3 separate regions of the Homo sapiens genome follow, and regions 1 and 2 are each linked to region 3. Evidence: fine-mapped expression QTL. A gene starts in region 3. Each other region holds a variant in brackets. All regions are shown on one strand. Distances are between the middles of the regions. Region 1 overlaps ADHFE1 (alcohol dehydrogenase iron containing 1). Region 2 overlaps LOC102724687 (a long non-coding RNA gene). Region 3 holds the start of VXN (vexin).

What was found.
Region 1: its variant is fine-mapped to the expression of VXN in blood mononuclear cells (TOPMed, PIP above 0.99).
Region 2: its variant is fine-mapped to the expression of VXN in whole blood (TOPMed, PIP 0.97).

The regions. Positions count from the first base shown.
Region 1 is chr8:66,466,221-66,476,426 of GRCh38, forward strand. ADHFE1 (alcohol dehydrogenase iron containing 1) reads left to right here. Exons shown (of 14, transcript NM_144650.3): 14 at 2,049-2,687. The coding sequence ends at 2,132. Among named protein-coding and RNA genes, the nearest start is that of VXN, 22 kb to the right of the region's middle. The variant A/G (reference allele first, on the strand shown) is at 4,821.
Region 2 is chr8:66,389,193-66,398,681 of GRCh38, forward strand. The region is part of intron 1 of LOC102724687 (a long non-coding RNA gene); the gene reads right to left. Among named protein-coding and RNA genes, the nearest start is that of RRS1-DT, 35 kb to the right of the region's middle. The variant G/A (reference allele first, on the strand shown) is at 2,888.
Region 3 is chr8:66,490,518-66,500,090 of GRCh38, forward strand. It overlaps VXN (vexin), which reads left to right and starts at 3,049. Exons shown (of 6, transcript NM_152765.4): 1 at 3,049-3,201; 2 at 5,920-5,975. The coding sequence starts at 3,132.

The DNA of each region.
Region 1 (10,206 bases), 24 kb before region 3:
ACCACACCCAGCTGAATTTTTTTTTTTTTTTTTTTTTGTATTTTTAGTAGAGACAGGGTTTCACCATGTTGGCCAGGCTGGTCTCGAACTCCTGACCTCAAGTGATCCGCCTGCCTCAGCCTCCCAAAGTGCTGGGACCACCGCACTGGACTCCCTGTGCTTCTGGTGTTACATCCAAGAAATCATTGCCAAAGCCAATATTCCTAAAGATTTTTCCCTAATTATTCTTCTAAGAGTTTTAGGGTTCTAGCTCTTACATTTAGGTTTTTGATGCATTTTGAGCGAATTTTTTTAATACATCCATCCTTCTTTTCATTCCTTTTACCAGACAAAACAAATACCTACTGTATACCATGCATTGTACGGTATACTAAAAGAAGGAAAATAAAGTCCCTTTTCTCCTTTGTGAAGCTTACCTTCTAGTGAGGGGAGACAGTGAACATCTATAAATAAGATGTAAATGAAATCATTTCAGATAATGATTAGTGTATGAAGGAAAACCTGCATAAGGAGATAGAGAGTGATCTCACGGGGAAAGTGTGGAGAGATCTCCAGCCAGGGTGTTGGGAAGGTGCATGATGATAGGCCAATGCTTTCTAGGCAGAGGGGAAGGGCCCTGAGGCAGGGTCAACGTTAGCATATTCAAGGAACTTAAAAGGGATGGTGGGACTAAGTGAGGTGTTAGAGCTGGGGCAGGAAACAGAGCCAGATCGGGGTAGCCTTAGAGGCCATGGTTTTGTTGTAATTGCCACAGGCATTTATCTGCGAGCATTAAACACAGGAATGGTAGGATTCAGTTTATACTGGAAAAAAATCACTTTGGCTGCTGTGGGGAGAATGACCTCTGGGGGGCAAGAATGGAGCAAAAGTGGAAACAGACCTTTCAGGAAGCTTCTCAAGCTGGACAGGCGAGTGATAGCAGTGTCCTGGATTCCGGTTGTGGTACCACAGGAGGTGAGAAGCGCTCTGACTGGGGCTTCATTTTGGAAGTAGGACTGACACTCCTGCTGATGAGTTGAACTTGCAGAGCAAGGGAAAGGGGAATCAAGTGTGGCTCCTGGGTTTTGCCTGAGCTACTGGGTGTCATTTCTGAGATGAGAAAATGGTAGGAGCGGTGGGGTGGGAGAGTCAGAGTTCTATCTTGTATATGTGAACTTTGAGACTCCAGTATCCCCCTCCCCACCATCTTCACTAATTCAGCAGATAACTGTTGAGCATCTACTTACTATGTAAAGCCCTCTGGTAGGCGCAGGGCAGAGAGCAGTGCACACAGCTGAGCCCCTGGCCTCACAAGTTTCCCTTCCACTAGCTACACTCCCAAACACATGCCAGCAATAGAAAACATGCCCAGAGACCCATGAAAATGGAACCTCAAAATGGACATTCCTCAGTTTCATGCAGGTGCCAGGGGAGTCATCGCTGTACATTTTAGCCCCTGTCCCCGAGAAGCTACTGACCAGAGTATAAATAGAAGTAGGATGTGCTGGATGTCTTCGCTGAATTGACTCAATAATCATTGGAGAAATTAACAAATCACTGGATTTGCTTGGGAACATAGAGATAAAACCTTAGTTAATAGAAAAAAACGGAGTCACTTGTTGCACATAGCATGAACATTAATGTTCTACTGAAGTCCTTTTGAATATGCCTTAAGTCCAAGTTGCAAAATACATGGTCTTAGACTTCGGGGACGACCCAGTTCTCTCTCAGAGCTCTGTGTGTACAGAGAACCTGGCAGAGGTGGTTGACTGACCTAGTTTTGTCATGATAAGGGTGTTTTCCCCAAGATTGGTTTCGGCAGAAGGCTGTTGCCAGGGCGTAAGGCAAGGGGCAGTGGCTTTCGAAAGCTCTGTGGGGAAAGAGGTATGATGTGATAAACCTCTGAGATGGGGATCAACTCATATGAAGTATACAAGAAATACCGTTTTTAAAGATATGGCGTTTATCAAGTCATTGATTCTTATGACCAAGTTAATTTCCATAACTTTGTAGCTTTTACAAACTGCCTTTTCAAAGCCCTGGGTAACTTCTTTCATTTACTGTTTCAGGAAAGGGTCACCAAGCTTGCACCCTGTCCCCAGTCAGAAGAGGATCTGGCTGCTCTGTTTGAAGCTTCAATGAAACTGTATTAATTGTCATTTTAACTGAAAGAATTACCGCTGGCCATTGTAGTGCTGAGAGCAAGAGCTGATCTAGCTAGGGCTTTGTCTTTTCATCTTTGCGCATAACTTACCTGTTACCAGTATAGGTGGGATATACATTTATCTTGCAGGAAATTCCCCAAAGCTCAGAGTCCAGTTCCTTCCATAAAACAGGCTGGACAAATGACCACTATGTTAGACCCCCAGGCTCGACTTCAGGGGTCAGTGTTCCTGTCCCAAACCCCACACAGAATACTCTGCCTCTGTTTCATGTAGCAAATGAGCAAAAACTCAGTATCTATCAAAAGTGTAAATTATATTTCCTATGCCTAGTAATTCACTTCATGTCTAAAAATTTATCTGATAGAAACACTAGCACCAGTACATACAGAAGCATGGCAAGGATGTTTCTGGCAGCACTTTTCTAATAATAAAAGATTTGAAACAACCTTAAGTATTCATTATTGGTATATAGATCACTTATAGTATACTAGACAGTGGAATACTATGGTACTGTTAATAAAGATGAAGTAAATCTCTTGGAAATGAGTCCATAATATACTGGGAAGTTGGCAGAAAGCAAGCTACCAAATAATTATATATTAGTATGATCTGATTTTTACTTTTTCAATTATACATAAACATATATCTACATATACATACAAAAGAAAGATACACATCAAAATTTAAAAGTTATTACTGGAGAAATGGAATTTGGGGTGTGGAGAACTAAGAGAAAATGTTCACTTTATTTATTTATTTATTCATTTATTCATTTATTTTTATTTATTTTTTTGAAATGGAGTCTTGCCCTGTCTCCCAGGCTGGAGTACAGTGGTACGTTCTCGGCTCACTGCAACCTCCACCTCCTGGGTTCAAGTGATTCTCCTGCCTCAGCTTCCTGAGTAGCTATTTATTTATTTTTTGAGACAGGGTCTCACTCCTATTGCCCAGGCTGAAGTGCAGTGGTACAATCATGACTCGCTGCAGCCTCCACTTCCCGGGCTCAGGTGATCCTCCCATCTCAATCTGCTGAGTAGCCGGGACTACAGGCATGCACCACCATGCCTGACTTATTTATTTATTTATTTTTGTATTTTTTGTAGACACGGGGTGTCGCCATGTTGCCCAGGCTGGTCTCAAACTCCTGAGCTCCAGTGATCCTCTCGCCTTGGCCTCCCAAAGTCCTGGGATTACAGGCATGAGCCACCACTCCCAGCCTCATTTTTTATTTTATAAACTTCTGTATTGTTTGGATTTGCTACAACAAGCATATATTACTTTTCTAACATTTATAAAAGAGAAGGGAAAGGAAAGAAAAATGTCATTTTAATGTTTTAGGTCAGATTCGTTTTATTTTATAAAAATACTAGTAACGTATTTAAAAGGTAAAAACAAATCCACAGGGGTAAAATATTAGAGACCAATCCTCTGGTGAATAAGTTGGTTTTTTTGTTTTGTTTTGTTTAAAAAAAAAAAAACAAAAACAAAAACAAAAAGCAAAAACTAACATCCTACATGGTTATTCCCTCTGGAAAAATGTTTCTGGTGCTCTGAATACATTAATTCGAAAAGAAGCAGTTTTGTAGGTTACAGATTACAGCATGCAAGTAGAATCCAACTAGTGTGATACTCTTCCTCCCTTTTATTCCCAGGCTACAGAAACCTGGACAGCTCATTTTTCCTTTCAAAAGTTAACCCACTGAGGTTTTCTTGCCCAAGCTTTGGCAGTATAGATCTCAGAGTACTTGCAGATTTACTCACATTTTAAATTGAATTAAATTTTTAATCTTATAAATGAGTAATATAATTACTTCAGGATTTTTTTCAAACAGATGAGAAAAGCATTACTGTGCCATTCAACTTGCCTAGGCCACTTGATCTCCATAAAGGTCTTTATTTTGTTGAGATTTTAAAATAATGTTTATTGGGGGTTTTCTCTAACTACAGACATAAAATATATTCGGTACCAAAAACTGTTAATACAAAGATAAACACAAAAGAAAATCATTGTTCATACTGCACCATCCAAAAGATAGCTATGTAAAAATTTTGTATATGTTATTCCAGTAATTTTGTATGCATAAATATATGTTGTATAACTAGCTATATATGTGTACATTTTTTACTTAGAAATGGTATTATTAAGGTGTAATTTTAATTTCTACAGAACATTCAAATTTTTTTATACCAAGTGCCCCAAACATAGGCTTAAGATGGTGCCAGTAGAATTTCAGCTACACCTTGCAGATCATAGCTAGCTAAAATTTCTTCTAGCTCTTCAGGAGAATCCTGGAGATGAGGGCAGAAGCTGGGCATGAATGAGGCAGAGAACAGCTAAACTCTGCCAATCTGAGATCCTTCAGGAAACTTCAGTAAAAGTTGTTAATGAGAGTCTCAAAATATATTTAGCATGGCAAAAACTTATATGTATACACATACACATATATTTTTCCCTCACCACCCCCACCTCAGAAGCAGTCTAGGTAAGTTTGAGAACACTTATAATATATTAGGCAATGTGATATGACATTATTAGAAGAGCATTAGGCTAGGGTTCAAGGGCCCTGGATTTTGTTTCAGTTTTGTCTGAGTCTTAGTTCATTCAACTAAGGCCTCTTCCAGCTTGAAAATGCTATGAGGCCGGGCACAGTGGAGGCTGAGGCAGGAGGATTGCTT[A/G]AGTCCAGGAGTTTTGAGACCAGCCTGGGCAACATGGCATGGTGAAACACCATATCTACAAAAAATACAAAAATTAGCTGGGCGTAGTGGTGCATACCTGTAGTCCTAGCTACTCAGGAGGCTGAGGCATGAGAATCACTTGAACCTGGAGGGTGGAGGTTGCAGTGAGCTGAGACCACATCACTGCACTCTATCCTAGGCAACAGAGCAAAACTCTGTCTCAAAAAAAAAAAAAAAGAAAAGAAAAGAAAAGAAAGAAAGAAAATGCTATGACTAGGTTTTATGTATTACCTGGTCCTTAATGTGAGATTTTCGAATTGGGAAAATTCGATGTAAAATAATTTGAGATACAAATATGCATTCTCCCCCCATCTCTCTCAAATGTTCAGTGCCTTTGCTAACAGTAGCCAGACGTCTGAATGTGACTCACCAAGAGGAGTGTTTGGTATTCATATTGATGATGACTCTGTAGAGGAAGAATTTAAAGGTCAAGCATGAAGAAACAGATTTAGGAAGACTTGGTGTTTTTATCTGGATACCCATCATTCTGGCCCTTACAATTAGAGATTATGGAAAAGGTGAGTTTTGTGACTTACTAGCTATTAAAAGAGGATAAGCTAGATTAGGCCCATTTCTGTAAATCAAACATTTCATGTTTCAGAGACAATAATTAAGTGTATTTTTTCTGATTCTGTATCCTATTTTTCTATAGATGTCCTTTAAGAAAAATTCTTAAGAGTCGCAGCTCCATTTATGTGGATTAAAATACCTACCAAGGCAAGGACATTTAATAGAGTGGTATTCAAGAGTTTGGAAAATACTATGTTCATAAAACTATCATCATACGGTGGCATTTTCACTTAAAATACATGCATATCCCTAATTTATTTTTTGATACAGAATACTGATTTGTTCCAAATAGGTCATGTTTCTATTTATTGTTGAGTGCCACAATAAATAGCTGGCTCGTTTTGCACTCCTGTCCCTCTCTATGGCATTGTTCGAGTAGCTGTGGACACAGCTGTGGGGTGTTTTCAAGTGGTCAGTGAAGTAAGTCTGCTCTTGTAAAATACAGACAAGTACAGTATCAAAATAGCGCGAACGCGCAAAAATTGCTTTCCTGGCCTTTTAACCCTGAGAAAGATTAATGGTTGTTTGGATTAGAAACTGTACCCTAATGAGGGGGCTGTTGCCTCTGGGGAGTAGGTATGAGAAAGGGGACTGTTCACCTCCAGGTCATCGTTGCACAGGCTGCGAGTCTCTGACGACCCGCAACACCACTCCAGACAGCTGCCCGGGCTCTGCCAGTAAGTGCCTGGTCCTCCGGGAGCTGTTGAGGGGACCAGGCCATCACCATCACAATGGCCTGGGGGAGGCAGTCTCCAGGACCAAGCGCACTTTGAATGGACAGAAATTGGTTCTTAAAGCCCTAGGTTGAATTACTGGCAGCTGGGGGTGGGAGGGTCTAGTTTCTCGTGCTATTATTCTACTGTTTTTCCAACCACTCCAATCACTCTCAGAATAAATGCAATCGCCTAACAAATTGCAATAACTGTTTTGAGATTTCGTCCCCTCTGAAATGCCTCATGAAGCTATGCGCACAACAGCTAACTTCAAAGTAACCCCACTTCATTCTTTCTGGCTTTAAGTTTTTGTCTTTTTCAGTTGGGTGCTTTAAATTGATTTTCCAATTTATAAAATTGGAAACTGATTAAAATAATCATGAGAGAAAAGGAAGAAAAAAACAACTAATCATCCTATTACCCAAACACAGCTGTTAACATTTGACATATTTCCTTTCCATCTTTTCCATTTGGGTGGTGTAATCTCTTAACACATGACATTTTAAGGATTTTCTATGTTGTTGCATAATCTTCATAATCATATGCAAATGTATGCAATAGTTTATTAAATAAGAATTTAATAATTTATTCTTATTATAGGTCATCAAATTGCTTCCAAATTTTTATTCCTACCAATAACTTAGCAATGAATAGATGAATAATGTTTATATGGCATCTTTCACATTCTAAATTAATTTGGTAGGTTAGGTTCCCCTAAAGTCAATTTTAACATTACAATATAGATTTTTTTTCCTTTTTCTTTTTTTAAGAGATAAGGTCTCATTCTGTCACCCACAATGAAGTGCAGTACAAGATCATAGCTCACTGTAACCTCAAACTCATGGGCTCAAAAGATTCTCCTGTGCCTCAGCCTCCCCAGCAGCTGGGAGTATATGCAAGCACCATCACACCTGACTAATTTTTAAAATTTTTTTGTAGAGATGGGGTCTCGCTATGTTGCCCAAGCTGATCTCAAACTCCTGGCCTCAAATGATCCTCCCACCTTGGCCTCCCAAAGTGCTGGAATTACAGGCATGAGTCACCACACCTGGCCTGATGTAGACATTTTTATGACTCTTGGTTCACAGTGTCAAGTTACATATAACTCAGAATTGCCTTAAATATTGCTTCCCCTCTCATTCAATCTTCTCTTCAAAATAAATACTAGTGCAAAGCAACAAGAAATGAAACAAAGTTCATTTGCAAGTATGGACCAGACTAGACTATTTGTGCCAACCTGCAAGTCAATAGTGGTTTTTTTTTTAATGTCAGTACAGCTTAATGGTTCACAGGGATTACAATTTTCAGATAAACTTAGGAAAATTTGGTGTTATATCCTTGCCTCTTCGGTGAAACTTTAAGACCCCAAATCTCTTTTTTACTTACTTTTTTTTTCTTCTAGAGCCCTCTGTGGCCCCCTAAGCCTGTAGGTCTGTGTTTTTCAGTTTTGCTGGCCGAGAAAAAAGACCCAAGGGAGTAACATATTATTTTCTACAAGGATGTTCTAAAACTGCTCAGGCCTGTGAGTGAAATGATTTGCTGCACTGCAAGGGAGGTGAGTGAGACCAAGGAACTACACCCACCAAGATCCCTTCCAAGGGTCTAAGTTGCTTCTCTAATCAGAAACCTCTCAAACCTTTGCGACTGTGCACATAGGTCCCATGATGGCTTTGGCAACATTTACCTGGGACCAGGGTGAACTTCGTACCATGTATTGCATATGAGAAAAGAAAAGAATGTTTGTCAAACAAACCACTATGTTTTATTTTATTTTATTTTATTTTAGTGTTGCTGGTAGGTGTGTAGTGAGTTCTCAGTGTGTGTGTGTGTGTGTGTGTGTGTGCAGTTTTTTTTTTTTTTTTTTGGACAGGGTTTCACTCTGTCTCCCAGGCTGGAGTGCAATGACACGATCTTGGCTCACCACAACCTCTGCCTCCCGGGTTCAAGTGATTCTCCTGCCTCAGCCTCCCCAGTAGCTGAAATTACAGGCGTGTTGCCTCTACGCCCAGTTAATTTTTGCATTTTTAGTAGAGACAGAGTTTCACCATGTTGGCCAGGCTGGTCACAAACTCCTGGCCTCAAGGGATCCCCCCGCCTCAGCCCCTGAAAGTGCTGGGATTACAGGCAGGAGCCACTGCGCTCGGCTTCATTGTGGTTTTAATTTGTATTTCTCTAATGGCATGTGATGCTGAACATCTTTTCACATGCTGATTTGCTATCTGTATCTCCTTTTTGTTGAAATGTCTGTTCATGTCTTTTGCCTATCTTCTAATTGGATTGTTTTGTTTTGTTTTTTTACTGTCGAATTTTGATGATGCTTTATATATTCTAAATACAAGTTTTTTCTTAGATATGTGGTTTGTGAATCTTTTCTCTCAGTCTGTGGCTTGTCTTTTTATTCTCTTACAGGGTCTTTCACAGACGAAAGGTTCTTAATTTGATGAAGTTCAGTTTATCACCTTTTCCTTTTTATTCATCATGCATTTGATGTCAAGTCAAAGAACTCTGCCTACCCATAAATCTCTAAGGTTTTCTCCCGAGTGTTTTCCTAAAAATTTTAGTTTCACATGTAAGTCTGTGATCTACTTTGAGTTAATTTTTGTATAAGGTGTGAGACTTAGGGGGGTGTGTGTGTATGCATGCACACATGAGCACACCTAGGCTATCTCTAGTATCATGTGTTCATTTGTTGAAAAGATACTCTTTCCTCCATTAAATTGTTTTTATGCCTTTGTCAAAAATCAGTTGGGCATATTTGTGTGGGTCTGCTTCTAGGTTCCCTGTTTCATTTCAGTGTTCCATGTGTCTGTCTCCACCAATACCACCCTGTTTTGATTACTACAGCTAAATAGTAATCCTTAACATTGGTAGAGTGATTCCTCTCCTTTACCCTTCTTTTCCTTTTTTTCTTTTCTATTTTTTTTTTTCTTTTTTGAGACGGAGTTTCACTGTTGTTGCCCGGGCTGGAGTGCAATGGCATGATCTTGGCTCATTGCAACCTCCACCTCCTGAGTTCAAGTGATTCTCCTGCCTCAGCCTCCCAGGTAGCCTGGCCTATCCTTCTTTTTCAAAACTGTTGTAGCTATTCTAGTCCTGCACATTTCAATATAAATTTTAGGATAACCTTATCTATGTTGACAAAATATTCTTGCTGAGATTTTATAGTAACTGCATTAATCCTATTGATAATTTGGTGACAGCTGACATTTTTAGTATGTTGATTCTTCCAATCCAGAAATCCAGTATATCTCTGCATTTATTTAGGTCTTCTTTGATTTAGTTAATCAACATTTAAAAATTTTCAGGACACAGATCCTCTACACGTTCTGTTACATTTCTATCTAAGTATTTCATTTTCTTTGGAGCAATTGTAAATGGTATTGTGCTTTGAATTTTGGTTTTCACATGTTCATTGTTAGTATACAGAAATGTGATTGATTTTTATATGTTGATCTTGTATCCTGCAAACTTGTTGCACTACTTATTAATCCTAGAAGTTTCATTGTGGATTTCTTATGATTTTCTATAATTATCCACCTGTGAATAGGGACAGTTTTATTTCTTCGTATCCAATAAATATGCCTTTTATTTCCTTTCCTGGTATTTTTGCCCTGGCATACTATTCTACTACTATGTTGAATAAGAGTGGTGAGAGCAGATATCCTTGTCCTGTCCCCTATCCTAGGGGGAAAATATTCAGACTTTCACACTGAGTATGATGTTAGCTATAGGTCTTTTATAGATTCTCTTTATCAAGTTAAGGAATTTGTGTCATCTTTTAAAGGTGTTATAGTAGCATGGTAGCTTTTCTTACTCTGTGAATTTATGCTTAGATAATTTACTGGATTTAGGTTATTTTTGTAATCAAGAAACAGAGCAATCTTTTCCATTTTCATTATAATTCTGTTAGGTACCCGTGCAGGTATTTCTGTTTGACAGATAAACTTTTTAAAAACAGAGACTGCAAGAGGTAAAATGTCTTGCCCAAATTTATATACAAAGGACCATTGTCAGACTAGGTCCTAGGGCATCAGTTCAATTAC
Region 2 (9,489 bases), 100 kb before region 3:
AATAGTAAGTGCTTAGGCTAGGGTGATGGCAATGAAGATGAAAATAAGAGGGTGGATTTTATTTAGGTGGCATCTTCGTCCATTTGTGCTGTGATAACAAAATACCTGAGTCTGGGTGGTTCATAAAAAACAGAAATTTCTCAATTTCTGGAAGCTGAGAGTCCAAGATCTAGGCGCCAGCAGATTCAGTGTATGGCAATGGCCTGGTCTCCACTTCCAAGTTGGTGCCTTGTTGCTGTATCCTCCACAGGGGAGGAATGTTGTGTCCTCACAGGGTGGAAGGGATGGAAGGGCAAGAGAGAGGCAAACTCCTTCTGTCAAGTCCTTTCATAAGGGCATCTAATTCTGTTCATGTGGGCAGAGCCCTCATGATTCAATCATCTCCTTAAAGCCACACCTCTTAACAGTCTTCCATTGGGAATTAAGTTTCCACATGAATTTGGGGTGGGGACAACCAACCATCATTCAAACCATAGCAGGTGGTAAAATCAGCAGGACTTAGCAATGGAGGGTATGGGGAGGGATTTGTCAATAATGCCTCCACGCTGGGCGCGGTGGCTCATGCCTGTAATCCCAGCACTTTGGGAGGCCGGGATGTGAATACCGGGCCTTAAATGTCTTAAATGCGGGAGAGAGTACTTGGCCCTAGATTTGCCTGCCTTCATCTTTCTTCTGACTCCAACCTCAGTTGGAGGCAGGCAGATCACGAGGTCAGGAGATCAAGACTATCCTGGCTAACACGGTGAAACCACCTCTCTACTAAAATTACAAAAAATTAGCCAGGCGTGGTAGCGGGCACCTGTAGTCCCAGCTACTCCGGAGGCTGAGGCAGGAGAATGGCGTGAACCCAGGAGGCGGAGCTTGCAGTGAGCCAAGATCGCGCCACTGCACTCCATCCAGCCTGGGTGACAGCGAGACACCGTCTCAAAAAAAAAAAAAAAAAAAAAAATGCCTCCAAAGTTGATGGCCCAAGTAACTGGCAGGTTGCTCATGCCATTGGTGTGAATAGAAAACACTGGGAAAGAACCAGTTTAGGAGAGTTTTAGGAGAAAGATTGCAGGTTCAATTTTAGACAAATTGAGCTAGAGGTGCTTCTAAAATGTTCAAATGGTCATGTCAAGGCAATAAATGGGTCTGGAGTTTAGAGAAGGAATCTGAGCTGGAGTTAATTTAACAGTCATCGGCATATGGAAGAAAACTGAGGCCACTGGTATGGAGCAAGTATGGAGTTAGGAAAGAAGAGGCCCTGGAGCCAAGCTCTCAGGAGCTCCATCAATTAACCACTGAGTATAGAAGCACGAGCTTTAAAGGGAACTGAGAAGGGAAAGGCCACATAAGTGAGAGGAAAACCAAAATGTAGTGTTACAGAAGCTAAGGGGAAAAGTATTTTTTTTGGACGGAGAAAAAAAAAGTTTTTTTTTTGGAGAGTTCAACAATGAATTAAGTGACTGGAGGTCACTGATAATCTTAACTTTTTCAGAGGAGTAATGAAGTCAAAAGCAAGATTAGAATGAAGTTTTTAAAATTTTTAAAATTAACCCAAATTTGCATATAGCATTTTACCCTAAAAGAATCTCAGATAAAGGGGAGTCACAGAAATAACATTCGAATGAATCATGTCTCAAAAAGAAAGATTGCATTCTGAGCAGGATTCTGATAAAGACTCAAACTACTTCACTTTAAAAAAAAAAAAAAAAAAAAGCTCCAGTGCATTTATACATCTCAGGATCTCAGGGGCAGCACCCCTGGGTGGAGACTTCAGTTGAATATAGGGTAAGCCTTCATGATTCACAAGCCCAACAAATCTTAGAGCTTTATTATACTATGTTCTTAGATTCTGTGCTAGGAAACCACAGAATTCAGGACACTACCTTCCTGCAAGGACCTGGGGTACTTAGTCACCATCACAGACATTTGTAGAGCACAATCTATGTCCAAGAGACCATGCTTGGTGCCACAGCTCAAAGAAAATGTCTGTAGATTGGTTCGAACCTAAGGAGGGACTCACCGGAGCCTTTCCTGGGTATGACAGCATGCTTACTCTCTCCCAGTTCACAATCTAGGCCAAATGGGAGATGACTACGGTTATTGAAAGTATTAGATCTTGGTTCAAACAGCTCCTTGAATAGGATAAAATGATCCTGGTGATAATGCCACCTTCCTCTCCCAAGTCTTTTTTGGCAACTGTGCTTATTACTCATTCATTCATTAATTCATCACTTTCTAGTCATTCAACTACATATCAGGCTCTGGGACTGGTGCTGGAAATTCAGTGGTGAGCAAGATGGGCATGGTCTTAACTCTTGTGGAACTTACCAGATAGAAGACATCCCCCTGTTCAGGATGTATTGGCCCACACAGAGCTAAGAGATCAGTAGCCATGATTGATCTATCAGCCTTTCGGAGACGGCTGTGTCATGCATGAGGGCCCATCTGTAGCCACTGTGCAAACTGTTTGGAGAAGTGAGAGAGCCTCTAAGGAGCCAAGGAGAGGTTGGGGTGGGGTTGGGAGTTGAAGTGTATCAACCCACTGATAAAGAAGGGAGATCATACCAGCAGCACTTTATTTTTAGAACTATACATGCTGCAATTTGGAAGGGATCTCTGGTGCCATCTAATCTCCTCCTACTTCCTCAACACAGGACTCCCCTCTACTGCAGCCCCTGCATTCATTCAGCCTGTTTTACAAGGCAGCAGCTTCGTTGCTGAACAGTGGTGTTATAATGGTCCCCATTCCACCCCTCTGCTTGGTCCTGGGATTACAGGTGTGCACTACAACGTCTGGCTAATTTTTGTATTTTTAGTAGAGACGGGGTTTCACCACGTTGGCCAGGCTGGTCTCAAACTCCTGACCTCAAGTGATCCACCTGCCTCTCTCTTCCAAAGT[G/A]CTGGGATTACAGGCATGAGCTGTCTGGCCCAAGTTATTACTTTAATACCACAATGAATCATAGATAATGTTACAGCAAAATACACCTGACGCACTCATTAAAACAAAGATCACATTTGCATAGTTGCTGTCCATAGAAAGATACACACAGAGGCAGCTGGAAAGCTAATGAGGTTGTCCAGATGGCAGCATCTTCCTCATGTGGTACATGTGTTCCAGGAGCTTTCATGGGACTCCACAGCCTCCGCCTGCCTCCTTCCCCTCCCTTCTCCTAGAAGGATAGTCTAGACTAGCATTGTTAACCGGAAGATTGTACAGGAGGATAGAAGCAGCATTCTGATGAATACTGAAGCTCATTGTGAGAGAAGGTGCCATTACTGGAAAAGAGGAGTATTTAAGATGGGTATTACTAATAGGAGTTAGGCCAAGGGGAGCCCTCAGGCAGGGCATCATCTGATGTGATGGCTGGCTTCATGTATTTGAAAAAGGGAGCGATTTATTTAGTGCTGCTCCTGAGGGCAGTATGGAGCCTGCTGAACCAGGGCCCATCACAGTGGACCAGCCTGGAGTGTTCAGGGCCTGCAGCCTGGGTTTCTCCCCTTTCTTGCTCCATATTCTTAGAAAAGTTACTTACTCTTTGTTGATCTTGGTTTTCTTTTTTTAAAAAATATTTTTACTTTCTTTTTCTGTGAATTTGAGACAGCATAGATCTTGGTTTTCTTATCTGTAACATGGAGATAAAGAATAATGCCTACTTCATGGGGTATTGTAAGAATTTTTTTAAATTTTTTTTTTGTTTGGGGGGCTACAGGATCTTACTCTGCCACCCAGGCTGGAGTGCAGCCTCAACCTCCTGGGCTCAAGTGATCCTCCCACCTCAGCCTCCCAAGTAGCTGGGACTACAGGCAGGCAACACCACGCCAGGCTAATTTTGGATTTTTTGTAGAATCAAGGTCTCGCCATGTTGACCAAGCTGGTCTTGAACTCCTGAGCTCAAGCGATCCGCCTGCCTCAGCCTCCTAAAATGCTGGGATTACAGGCGTGAGCCACCACGCCCGGCCATATTGTAAGAATTTAATGAGGTGCTACTTATAAAGCATTTGGCATAGTACCTTGGCAAATAAGTTGTTTATATTATTAGAGGCCAGAACTACCAAAGGTGTCTGCTTTTTGTTCACTGTCTTAGATGCGGGAGAGAATATTTGACCTTAGATTTGTCCGCCTGCATCTTTCTCCTGACGCCAACCTCAGTTCCTCCTCTGACTGCCTCTCTCCATCTGTATTGCAAAACACCAAACTCTCTGCCAAAGAACACATGTAAGTGACCAAAACAGCAAGAATTGCTGATCTTTACTCTCACAGGCACTGACAGTTGCCTGGCAGGATCAAGGGAGAGCTTATTAAGAGGGAGGGTTTTTTGTCATTACATATGGTTGGATAGGGAGAAAGTATGGCCCACTGGAGGGAGAGCTCCAGTCATTCTCCAGAACACAGAGTGGGAGTCAACACATTCTGAGTCAGTCACCAATACAACTTTTGGCCAAAACCCATTTTCCTGTCTTTGATTTCACCATATGACCCCTGCTGATTGCTCTGACCCTTCCCACCACAATGCGCACTTACACCTATTTCACCCAAATCACATAAGGCTGGTAACAAAGAAGTAACACCATGGGCCACCACTTGGCCAGGTTACCTTCCTCCTCCTGACTCTAAAAAAAGGTACAATGGAGAATGCACAAATTTGACAACAACAAAATCAATGGAATAGCTACATTCTTATGACAAATTATGCCAAGTCTGAAGGCTTCTGAGCATTTCCTGTTGTCATAAAGGCAAAAACACATTTCATTATTTAGAAAATCTGAGCATCAACAAGATAACAAGTCTGACCTTTGTATCCAAGCCCTTTATAACTTTGGGGCCAGAACCGGTAGAATGGGGAAGAGTCCACTCTGTTCTCTTTAAGTTCTTCTGGAGAATTTCTGCTCAATTCACTCTTCTTAAAATGTCAAACTCCTTATATCTATATATACAATCCTTTGCCTTATGAATTAAGGTCCTCTGACTCCTGTACCTTCAGTGGACCAATGACAGTTTCAGGATTTGAGCAGCTAAGCTTGAGTGTGAATTCAGTCTATGCTCTCCTGGGGTTTCCAATCTGTGCTGTACTTAGGTTTTGTTTTTTCTTTTTTCTTTTTTTCCCCACTGTCTCACTTTCCCAATGTACTTAGGTTTATTAAATGAGTTTACGTATCTCAAATACAGGATAGTTTTTGAAACTGAAATATCTTAAATTTATAAGAAAAACTTGGCCTTCAGATTCACAAATAATCCAAAAACTTATAAATAATTAAAACCTCAACCTTCTCCTTCATGAAAAATTTAGTCAGAATTCTTAATAAAATAAAGTGATTTAAACTCTAGCTCATATAACATAGGATTAAATATTTCTAAATCAGATTGCTCAAAAGATACAAAAAGCCTCAATAATTCATGGACAGTCAGGAATGAGGTTGAGCTGAATGAGCAGAAAAATGATGTATAAGATTAGACACAGCTTGGTCTTCCCAAGCAGGTGGCACAGCAACACTTCACCTCTCACAGCAGCAAAAGCAATTCACCATCATATGCTACTATCTTTTTTATTTAAGAATAGCATTTAACAAGCTTATTTTAGAATCTGATTCATTTTCATTTTTAGGAAATTTAAAGGCCTTAAACCTTCTCCATACTGTGTGTGATTACACCTAATTAAAGTTCACATCTTTCGCAGAAAGGTGGGATATCAGTTCTAATTTTACGCACTGGTGTGATGGAGGGCAGAAGGCATTAGGCTGCAGGCCAATAAACCCAGGTTTATTCCTGACTTGGTCACTACTTTTCTGGATTTTCTTAAATGCCTCAGTTTTTCCATTCATAATATATGAGCATTAATGTCTGGCCCTTATCAGAATTCTCTATGGCAAATTATGTAATCACCTTTCATTTTAAAACTATTTAAACTATTGAGCCCGTACTGTATGATAGACACCATCCTATCTGCTATAAATAAAGTAAGGAACAAGAAAGTCATACTCTAACATTTGTTACATTTGTTCAAAAAATTTGTACTGCTATCCAATAATTGATATGACACTTTCAGGAACCTCTGAAGATACATGAAGTCAATAAGTCAACCAACAAGTCAACAAACATTTGTTGAATATTTACAATGTGCAAGACATTGTATCAGATACAATTATAAATAAAAATGTACCTCACTAGACGTATGCTGCTAGAGGATACAGCTCACGTTCATCATTACACCCTGTATCCCCGAAGTCTAGCATAGTGCCTCGTACTCAGCAATGCTCAATAAAGAATTGTTGAATGGACAAATGTATGACTGTGGGAGTGAAAAAAACAATCAAGGGCCCTGCACTCAAGGGGTTAGAATTTAATAGGGAATTTAAAGCATGTGTGCATCCACTCATCAACTACAATAAATAATAGTATGCCATAAAAAGACGCAAAGGAAACAAAAGAATTTAAAGCGGAAACTCTAACAGATACTTGTACACCAGTGTTCATAGCAGCTTTATTCACAATAGCCAAAAGTTGGAAACAATTCAAATATCCATTGATAGATGAATGGATCAACAAAATGTGGTGTATACATAACAATAAATTTAATTCAGCCAGAAGGAAATTCTGACACGTTACAACATAGATGAACCTTGTGGACATTATGCCAAGTTAATTAAGCTAGGCCCAAAAGGACAAATATTGTATTATTCCACTTACATGAGATCCCTAGAATAGTCACATTTATAGAGACATAAAGTAGAAGAATCATTACCAGGGGCTATGAGGGAGGGGGAATATGGAGTTATTGTTTCATGAGTAAAGGATTTCTGTTTCAGATGATGAAAACGTTCTGGAAATGGATGGTGGTGGTGGCTATGCAATGAGAACATACGTAATGCCACTAAACTGTACATTTTAAAAACAATTAAAATAGTAAATTTTATGTTATGGATTTCAGTACAATTTTTTTAAGCCATGAAGAAGCTTGGGAGGCACTGAGAACATCTGCCTGGGATAATCAAGGAGGGGTTTTCTAGAGATGGTCCTATTTGTGCTTGCTCTTCCTGTTAATCCCTGCAAATCAAAGTTCATACTGTGGATAATAAGAAGCAAGCATTCATTTTCATGTGGTTCACCAGCTTTATATGATTCCTTATACAAGAAACTAGTAAGACAGGTTGCTCTGGGAAGAGGCACTAGAAGCCTAGAGGTTTAGGGATTTGATGGCCTGGGGTAGAAAAAGACTTACTTTTCACTGTGCATTTATTCCTTTTTGTTTAAAATACAAATATTTGCATTTCCCTGATCATTAGTGATGTTGAGCATTTTTTCATATGTTTGTTGGCCATTTGTATGCCCTCCTTTGAGAATTGTCTATTCATGTCCTTAAGCCCACTTTTTGATGGGATTGTTTGTTTTTTCTTGCTAATTTGTTTGAGTTTGTTGTAGATTCTGGATATTAGTCCTTTGTCAGATATACAGATTGTGAAGACTTTCTCCCACTCTGTGGGTTGTCTGTCTACTCTGCAGACTGTTCCTTTTGCAGTGCAAAAGCTCTTTAGTTTAATTAAGTCCCAGCTATTTGTTTTTGTTTTTATTAAATTTGCTTTTGGGTTCTTGATCATGAAATCCTTGCCTAAGCCGATGTCTAGAAGGGCTTTTCCAATGTTGTCTTCTAGAATTTTTATAGTTTCAGGTCTTAGATTTAAGTCATCGATCCATCTTGAGTTGATTTTTATATAAGGTGAGAGATAAGGATCCAGTTTCATTCTCCTACATGTGGCTTGTCAATTATCCCAGCACCATTTGTTGAATAGGGTGTCGTTTCCCCACTTTATGTTTTTGTTTGCTTTGTTGAAGATCAGCTGGCTGTAAGAATGGCCAAAATAAAAAAAAAATCGATGTTGGCATGGATGTGGTGAACAGGGAACACTTTTACACTGCTGCTGGAATGTAAACTAGTACAACCATTATGGAAAACAGTGTGGAGATTCCTTAAAGAACTAAAAGTAAAACTACCATTTGATCCAGCAGTCCCACTACTGGGTATCTACCCAGAGGAAATGAAGTCATTATATGAAAAAGATATTTGCACACACATGTTTGTAGCAGCACAATTTGCAATTGCAAAAACGTGGAACTAACCCAAATACCCATCAATCAATGAGTGGCTAAAGAAACTGTGGAATACTACTCAGTAGTAACTGTGGAATACTACTCAAATGGAATACTACTCAGCCATAAAAAAGAATGAATTAATGGCATTCACAGCAACCTGGATGAGATTAGAGACTATTATTTTAAGTGAAGTAACTTAAGAATGGAAAACCAAACAGCATATGTTCTCACTCACATGTGGGAGCTAAGCTATGAAGATGCAAAGGCATAAGAAAAACATGTGGATTTGGGGGACTCAGAGGGTGAGGGATAAAAGACCACAAATTGGGTGCAGTGCATACTGCTTGGGTGATGGGTGCATCAAAATCTCACAAATCACCACCAAAGAACTTACTCATGTAACAAACACTACCTTTTCCCCAATAACCTATGGAAATAAAAATAATAATACATTTTTTAAAAAATACAAATATTTTTTAAAAACTTAAATGACTCCTGATCCTCTTTTAAAAGATTCTTGGCTGGGTGCTGTGGCTCATGCCTATAATCCCAGCACTTTGGGAGGTCAAGGTGGGCGGATCACCTGAGGTCAGGAATTCAAGACCAGCCTGGCCAACATGGTGAAATCTCATCTCTACTAAAAATACGAAAATTAGCTGGGCATGGTGGTGGGAGACTGTTATCCCAGCTACTTGGGAGGCTGAGACAGGAGAATCGCTTGAACCCAGGAGGCAGAGGTTGCAGTGAGCCAAGATCATGCCATTGCACTCCAGCCAGGGTGATGAGAATGAAACTCCGTCTCAAAAAAAAAAAAAAGATTCTCAAAATTTGGTCTGAAAGATACAACAAAATTGTCTTAGTTTCATAAAGCCAATGTTCCATATCAGAAGCTTTCATCAGATAACTACCAAAGCATTCTTTCATTTTTAACTCTAACTGTCCCTTCTGGGAGTCATCAATTTTGTAACTATGAAATCTCCCTCCCTGCTAATCACCACTCAACACCCATATACTTGTTTCCCATCAGTCAGAGGACCAGATTTGGGTATTTCTATTTTAGATAATACATGATTGATGTTCTTATACTGAGGCTTGAAACAAAAAAGATACTGAAAAACAGCCACACTAGGGATGAAATTATAAATATACATATTAAACAGTCGGTTAAATATAAAAAACTAATGAGAGAGGAAATGGGGAGATGTAGGTCACAGGATACAAAGTAGCAAGTAAGATGAACAAGCCAAAAGATCCAGTGTATAAGATGACGACTGTAGTTAATAGTAGTGTATTGTATTCAGGAGTTTTGCTAAATGAGTAGATGATAGCTGCTCTTGCCACAGGGGGAAAAATGCATAAGTATATCAGATAATGAATATGTTAATTTATTCTACCATATATATGTGTATATATAT
Region 3 (9,573 bases):
ACAAGGCAGTAGTTTGGGTTAGATGTCCACTGTGGTCCAGACAAAGGTGGCAAGAGGACAAGTTCAAGGAGAATAAACATGGCTTCCCAGAGCCATCCTCTGTGACTGGGTGCAATTCTCAAAGAAAGAGGTATATAATATTGACGACTACCTGATGAGTAAATGCCTCAATTTGTTTACTATAGAGATATCAATGGATGCCAACTCCAGGTCTAAGACATATGGATCAGGTCCACTCAAGTTCAAAGTAATGGAAGGCTTTGCAGTGGGAAAGTTGTCAGAATCAAAATTGGGTCACTTATGTCAGCCTTAACAAAATAGAGCCAGGAGGTCATGGAGGTAGGGGGAGGCTCTCAGGCATGATTTGCCTGATAAAAGGAACTATCACAGGAAATGTTATCAAACCATAGTTTGCTACATGAGTCACACAAAGACAGCTAGCGGCTTGTACAAGAACACTTGCCTGACACACTGTCTCCACTAAAGAACTGACAACAACTCCTGTCATAAACCCTTGTAACCAATGTTCTGTTTGTTTCAAAACAATCTATATGTACTCTTTTGCCTTTAAAACTTCCCCTTACCTTAGCCTCCCTGGATGTGCCTAAGATTTGTCATAGCATCTGTGTCCTGCAATTCCCAATTAAACTACATATTTTTAGAGAGCTTCTCTCTGTTATTTGGGTTGACAGGAGATAAAGAATAGAGTAAAATTTACTGGTTAAGTACTTTTTCTTTTTGAGATGGGGTCTGTCTCTGTCGCCCAGGCTGGAGTGCTGTGGGGCAATCTTGGCTCTTTGCAACCTCTGCCTCCTGAGCTCAAGCAATCCTCCCACCCCAGCCTCCCGAGTAGCTGGGACCACAGGCACACACCACCACGCCCGGCTAATTTTTTGTATTTTTGGTAGAGATGGGGTTTCGTCACGTGGCCCAGGCTGCTCTCAAACTCCTGAGCTCAAGTGATCCTCCTGCCTTGGCCTCTCAAAATATTGGGATTATAGGCGTGAGCCACTGAGGCTGGCCCGGTTAAGTACATTTGACTTTGGAGTCAAACTAGGGATTAAATCCTAATTCTACCACAAACTAGATATTTTAATCTCACAAGAGTTACTCAGTGGCTTTATGCCTCAGTTTTCTCACCTATAAGATGGCAAATATAATAGCTAGTCTTATTGGGTATTCGTAGATATTAAATGAAATTATATATCAGACTACCTAACTTATAGCAAGCATTTAATAAGTGGCAACTCTCATTATTATTATTTCATCACCATCAGTATTAGTATGAAGAAATGAAGCTGTAACAGTGTAATAAAATGCAGTGGGTTTGGCATGATACATATGTTTCAACCATAACCTTATTTGTGTGTATATACATAGAGAATATATAAAATACAGGGCATACATAGGATATCATATGCATATGATATCGTATATCTAGCTGCCCTGAGATTTTGTTTTCACCTGTGTCTGTAGCAATGGCTTGCTGTCACTTCCATTGGTGTACTGGACTGTTGGTACTGAATTAAATGAGACAGGGAGTATTTAGCTGCTCTCGCCTTCCCTCTGATGGATTGTTTCTCAGTGATTGATGTTTATCCTTGTGCCTCTTTCCCCCCTCCAAAAAAATCAAATACCATCAAAACCAAGAGTCCATCAGACCCCAGAGACCTGAGGATAAACCGTAGTAAGGCAGCACGTGACTGTCCTTCCCCTCCTGCCTAAGACGCCACGTTAAGGAAACAGTCAAGGACAATTTCACTCACCCTTGGAAGGAATCACGGTGGTGAAAACTTCTATGTTCTCGTCACTGCAGCTGTAAATCTGATGCATCATTTCAGCCTCCTCTTCCCAAAGTGCCTGGGAACTGGAGGCCTCTGTCTCTGGACCCCTAGTCTCGAGGCATCCTAATCCAGTCCGGCTCAGGGATCATTGTACATGTATCACATATACGATATCATATATACAGATGATATATATGATATCATATAAACACATGATATATATGATATATATACACATGATATATATGATATATACACATGATATATATGATATTATATACACATGATATATATGATATATGGAACAGTATATAACCTGTGACCTCTATATGTAGCATAATAGGATTTATAAGATAATAAATATATAGGATAAATGTATTAGGATATATAGGGTAATACAAATATATATAGGGTAATACAAATATATACATATGCTATATATACATATATCATATATACAAATATATATGATATATATACATACACAAATATATATGATATATATATATACACATACATATATACATATGATATACATACATATATAATAAATATGATATACGGGACAGTATATAATCTGTAACCTGTATATGTAGCATAATAGGGTTTATATAATATATTAGGATATATAGGGTAATACAAATATAACTTTCTATAATTTGCTCCTTGAACATGGGGCACTGCCTGTTGCCATGTCTCTGTGAGCACCTAAGGGTTATACGCGGAGGTACCAAACACAGGACCCTTGAGAAATGTCAGCCTTGTCATGTAATGGCATGAGGGGAAAACACTGGAGAAACAGTCCTTTTGTTTAAAATAGAAACTTCTAAGAGAGCCAAGTTAGCACATGACAAATTACTGAATATCCCGTTCTCCTGGAGGGGAGAAAAAAAAAAAAGCCCCTTCATTTCTGAAATGAGAAAGGGAATTGCTGGTACCAAAATTCACGTTTCCTTTTTGGTGGAAATTCTCCAGCCAAGCTTGGCGCTAACAGAGTAGGCGATTTCACTTCGTCGTCACCTCACAAAAGGCTTCCAAATTCACTGCGGCAGACACCGCAAAATAAAAATGTTAAATACATCCTAGCTGGGAGGGGATTGAAGCCTCCAGGCTCAATCAAAGGTTTGCAATAATAGGATTCATTTAAAAAAAAAAAAAAAAAAAAGGACAGATGGGTTTAGAAAATGTTGCAGTGAAGACTGGAACGAGATGAGCTCATAGCACCAGCCTGTCTTTTGTGGACCCGCACAATGATCCCTGAGCCAGACTGGATTAGGATGCCTCGCGACTAGGGGTCCAGAGACAGAGGCCTCCAGTTCCCAGGCACTTCGGGAAGAGGAGGCTGAAATGATGCATCAGATTTACAGCTGCAGTGACGAGAACATAGAAGTTTTCACCACCGTGATTCCTTCCAAGGGTGAGTGAAATTGCCCTTGACTGTTTCCTTAACGTGGCATCTTAGGCAGGAGGGGAAGGACAGTCACGTGCTGCCTTACTACGGTTTATCCTCAGGTCTCTGGGGTCTGATGGACTCTCGGTTTTGATGGTATTTGATTTTTTGGAGGGGGGAAAGAGGCACAAGGATAAACATCAATCACTGAGAAACAATCCATCAAGGGGAAGGCGAGAGCAGCTAAATACTCCCTGTCTCATTTAATTCAGTACCAACAGTCCAGTACACCAATGGAAGTGACAGCAAGCCATTGCTATGCACACAGGTGAAAACAAAATCCCAGGGTAGCTAGATAGAGACTTTCATTTTTTCCAGTGAGCAAGTGGGTTCTGAAATGAGAACAGCTGGCTTAAAAGTATGATTTCTAACTGTGCCATGCAAAGTGCGGAGAAATACTCCCGGTGGCTGCTTGAAGTCCAGTGAAGCCGTCAGAGAGCGCCCTGACCCTGGGCTGGCTTCTCCACAGAACCCAGGGCCACCTTGCAAACTTAACCCGGAACTAATGCTGCCAGAGAATGCGACACGAGAGTCTTGACTTTATAAGCTCTTGTGGTCCTCAGTGAACGGTGTTAAGGGCTTTGTGTGAGGGTTCTGATGACTCCAAGTGTCTGGTTCCTGGTCAGTCCCCTCAGCCTCTCCTAAGCATGGCCCCCTCTCCTGCCGCCTCTGTTCTCTGCCTGCGCTCCTGTCTTGCCCCCTCCCATCCACCTCCATGACTCAGGCTTAGCCCCTGGTCTCATTGTCAGCCTTGAATGAAGTAGGCTGGGTGTTTGCTGGTGTTGTGAGCCCACATTCAAACAATTCCTTTCTTCCCCTGTGTCAGCCGCTGACAGGGCCATTGCACAGTGGGGCAGGGAGAGATTCCGTTTGGCCACAAAGAGACAGCCTGCAGGACATAAATTAAGCTTTAGACATTTACTGCCAGATCCAGAGAGAGGGAAAAGAGCTGGGAGTCTGCTGCCCACGTGCAGGAGTTGGAATTCCCTCTGGAAACTCTGAAAGTCCAAGTTGACCCTCGGAATCAGCAGTTTCGCTTTTGGGTGGAACTCCTCTTACCCCTGGATGTTCACGGTGGCATTGATTCTAAGAAGGCACAACTGAAAATAACCTGAGTGTCCATGAAGAGGGGAATGGTTAAAATGTGGTGCTGTCATGCTGTGGAATACTATACAATGTCAACAGGAATAAACTAGATGTATGCCTGTGAACATAGGTAGATCTAAGCATAATGCTGAGTGCCAAATAAGCAGGCTGAAAAATTATATATGTAAGATAGCATTTCTGTAAATTTGAAAATATAAACCAATACTATATATTGTTTATGGATATGTATCTAGAGAAAAATACAAAAACATAGACCAGAAAGATACAGATAAAATTAGTGATCTCAGTAGTCTTGGGAAGGTAGGGAAGGAGAATTAGGGAAGGGTAGAAAGAGAACCAAAACATTGCCTCTGATTTTGTATTTCTTGTATATGAGAAGAAAACAAAGTAGAAGGAAATATGAAAATGTTACATGTGTTTATTTTCTATCATTTACTTCCATTTACAAAATTTTTAAAGGAAGAAAAAGTCAAAACGAAGTGGTTAAGAGACTGCTGCCACTTCTGCACTGTGTGACCTTGGGCAAGCTACTTAACCTCTCTGGGCCTGAGTTTCCACTGCTGTAAATGGGAGAAACAACTTATCTTCCAGGATCATATGGGGAATAAATGAGTAAATATATAAAGCATCTAGAACAGTAGCTGGCATGTAGTAAGCACCATTAAATACATCACTTAAAAAGTGATTTCCAATTTTATTTTGTATTTAGAATAATCAACATGATCAGTCAAAGATAAATATTTAATCTTATCTTTTTTCCCTTCCCATTTTCATTCATGGCCACTTCCTTGTGGTACAAGAGTAGCTATCTTGTGAAGTTGCTGTAAAACCTTTTCCCAACCAAGTAACATGTTTAATGGTTAATTTCTTTAAGCTTTTTTATAATTGTGGCAAAATATGCATAACAAAATGTACCATTTTAAAAACTATTTTTAAGTGTACAGGTCAGTGGCATTAAGTCTATTCACATTGTTGTGCAACCATCACCCCCATCCATCCTAGCACTTCTTCATTATCCCAAACTAAAACTCTGAATCCGTTGAACACTAACTCATTCCCCCACTCTTCCAGCCACCAGTAACCACCATTCTACTTTTTGTCCTACAAATTTGGTTTTTTGTCCTTTTGTTTGTTTGTTTTTCTGTCTCTATGAATTTGACTACTCTAGGAACCCCATATTAAGAGGAATTGTAGACTATGTGACATTTTGTGTCCGGCTTATTTCACTTAGTACCATGTTTTCAAGGTTCATCCATGTGTGGCATGTATCAGAATTCCATTCCTTTTCAAGGCTGAGTAATATTCCATCACATACAGACACCATATTTTGTTTATTCATTCATCTGTTGGTGGACATTTGGGTTGTTCCCAAACTTCAGCTCTTGTGAGTAATGCAGCTATGAACTTTGTACTCAAGCCAAGTAACATCTTCAATCGCAACGACCCTGTCTCTTTTTCCCGTCCCCTCCTCTATGCCCCTGCCTCGCCACAGATTCAAACCTTCTCAGTGTTGTTACTGTAGCTATGTCAGCCTCGCTGATGTTGTCTAAAACCATTTCTTTCTCTCTGTCTTTGCAGTATCCAGTCCAGCCAGAAGAAGAGCCAAAAGCTCTCAGCACCTCTTGACCAAGAATGTAAGGAAACTTTAGTTTTGATGTTCTTTGGTTGACTTTCATTTAAAAAGCAATGCCAGGCTTCTTCTTCACTCTCGCTCCCCAGCTCTCAGTGGCCAGGAGGGTTTCAGTGTTCCATGTGGTGCGTGCTGCACTCTCCGTTCTCCACTTAACCAAAATAATTGACAAATGTCAACCAGACACCAAGTGACCCTGAACTGGACCACTTATTCTGCCATTTTCTCCAGGCACAGAGAGTAAGACTTGTTTTATGCACACTTTTTTTTTCTTGTTTAAACAGAGTTCACGATGTGGACATAGCATTCCTGATCTAGGTGTTTTCCTATTGTTGGCATTCGTAATGTTCCATTTTTTTACTATTATTAATAGCACAGCAATGAATGTATTTATATAAAATACTATTTTTTTTTTGAGATGGAGTCTCTCTCTGTCGCCAGGCTGGAGTGCAATGGCACAATCTCTGCTCACTGCAACCTCCGCCTCCAGGGTTCAAGGGATTCCCCTGCCTCAGCCTCCCAAGTAGCTGGGACTACAGGCGCACGCCAGCACGCCTGGCTAATTTTTTGTATTTTAGTAGAGACGGGGTTTCACCATGTTGGCCAGGATGGTCTCGATCTCCTGACCTCATGATCCATCTGCCTTGGCCTTCCAAAGTGCTGGGATTACAGGCATGAGCCACTGCACCTGGCCAAAATACTATTCTTTTGGATTAATTCCTCAGAGCATAGGCCTCAAAGTAGAAAAAAAAGGTAAAAGGATAAGAACAATTTCATCCATCCATCTACTCCTTCATCAAATATTTGCATTCCTACTGTGTGTGACAAACATTGTGCTAGATGTAGAGAATTGTGATTTGCTCAAACTAGTTCTTTTTACAGTTTTGTCACATACTGTCAGGAATTCTGAACAATTTGGGGGCTTCCAGTAATGCTTGTCCATTTACCACCAACATCACCAGCATCGGCTTTCCTCTTTTTGTATTATGTTTTGCTGCTTTAACATGCATATGCATTACTCTAAAATTAGCTTACATGTCTTTAGAGCCTAATAATGCTGTGCAATTCCCATTTTATATATAAATTTCTTTACATAAAACTGGCAGTACATCTTTGCGCTTTAAAGTTGAAACTGAGTTGTCTCCTCTTGGTTGTACTGGAGTTTCTATTTCTATGACAATTTTTCATAGGATAGCATTTCAATTTTTGAAGTATCTCAATTTTCAAAAGCCTATTCTCCATTAAAAATTTTTTTCGACTGGGCACTGTGGCTTACACCTATAATCCCAGCACTTTGGGAGGTTGAAGCAGAAGGTTAGCTAGAGCCCAAGAATTCGAGGCCAGCCTGGGCAACATGAGACCCCGACTCTACAAAAAAGTCAAAAAATTAGCCAGGCGGCCAGGCGCAGTGGCTCACGCCTGTAATCCTAGCACTTTGGGAGGCTGAGGTGGGCGGATCACCCGAGGTCAGGAGTTCAAGATCAGCCTGGCCAACATGGAGAAACCCCATCTCTACTAAAAATACAAAAATTAGTTGGGCATGGTGGCGCATGCCTGTAATCCCAGCTACTCAGGAGGCTGAGGCAGGAGAATCGCTTGAACCTGAGAGGCAGAGGTTGCAGTGAGCCAAGATTATGCCACTGCATTCCAGCCTGGGCAACAGAACAAGACTCCGTCTCAAAAAAAAAAAAAAAAATTAGCCAGGCATGGTGCTATGCTCTTGTTGTCCTAGCTACTTGGGAGGCTGAAGTGGAAGGATCATGTGAGCCAGGGAGTTCGAGGCTAGAGTGAGCCATGGTCATGCTACTGTACTCCAGCCTGGGCAAACAGTGAGACCCTGCCTCAAATAAAAAAAATAATAATAATGTCCTTTGAATGAGATGGAGTTTTACTAGTTGTTGTTTCTATATAACATGTACATATACTATACATGTAAATGTATACATGTATATAAATGTATTACCTTTTTATTTCCAAAAGCAGTATATGCTATATAAAATTTTATACAATACAGTAGTCCCCCCCTTATCTGCAGGAAATATGTTCCAAAACCTCCAGCGGATGCCTGAAACCATGGATAGTACTGAACCCTGTATCACTATATCCTTTAAATCTTTTGTGTGTGTGTGTGTGTCCTTTAAATCTAATAACCAAGATGGCTACTAAGCGACTAACAGGTGGGGGTTGTCCACAGAATGGAGACCCTGGACAAAGGGATGATTCATGCCCCGGGAGGGGATATGCAGATTGGTGTGAGATTTCATCACACTGCTCAGAATAGTGCAAAATTTAAAATCTATGAAATATTTCTGGAATTTTCCATTTAATATTTACAGACTCTACTTGACCAAGGGTAACTGAAACCATAGATGAAAGGGACTACTGTATACTATCAGCAAATCCTGAGAAGCTGCAGAAGAGAGGGGTTAGGTATGTAGACTTCAGAGTCAAATGGCCTGGGTTTAAATCCCAGTTCTATCCATTTCTAGCTATGTGACCTTGAGCAAGTTGCTTAGCTATTGTGGAATTCAACTTCCTTAGCATTAAATGAGGATAATAAGAGAACATTTCTCAAGAACCATGGGAAGGAGCAATGATTTTTTTTCTTCTGCAACAAAAGCCACATTTATTTTTTTATTTTTTTCTCTTTTTTTTTTGGCAAATGATTTAATGCATATAAAATGTTTAGTCCAGAGCCTGACACATATAAGCATTCAATAAGTATTGGGTTGGTTTTTTTTTTTTTTTTTTTTTTGGCGGAGGGGACAGGGTCTCACTCTGTCACCCAGACTGGAGTGCAGTGGCGTGGTCTCGGCTCACCACAGTCTCAACCCCCTGGGCTCAAGTGATCCTCCCTTCTTAGCCTCCCAAGTATCTGGGACTACAGGCATGAGCCACCATGCCCAGCTAATTTTTGTACTTTTAGTAGAGACAGGGTTTCACTATGTCACCCAGGCTAGTCTCAAACTCTTGGACTCAAGTGATCCACCTGCCTCTGCCTCCTCCCAAAGTGCTGGAATTTGCAGGTGTGAGCCACTGTGCCCAGCCAGTTTTGTTTTTTTGTTTTTTGTTTGTTTGTTTGTTTGAGACACAGTCTCACTCTGTCGCCCAGGCTGGAGTGCAGTGGCACCATGTCGGCTCACTGCAACCTCCGTCTCCTGGGTTCAAGCAATTCTTCTGCCTCAGCCTCCCGAGTAGCTGGGATTACAGGAACTCACCACCACGCCCAGCTATTTTTTTTAATATTTTTAGTAGAGACGGAGTTTCACCATGTTGGCCAGGCTGGTCTCGAACTCCTGCAATTTGCTTTTTTCTCTTAATAAATCTTGAATATCTTTCTATGCCAATTCATCTGTATAGCTCTACCTTATTCTTCTTTTATATACACATTTTTAAATCTTTATTTATTATTAATATTATTTTTCATAGGGTTTTGTCATGTTGCCCAGGCTGGTTTTGAACTCTTGGGCTCAAGCAAACCTACTGTCTCAGCCTCCCAAAGTGCTGAGATTACAGGCCTGAGCCACTGTGCCTGGCCTACCTCATTCTTTATAGCGGCTGTATAATACAACATTGTATGAATGCTCTATAATTTTTTTTAC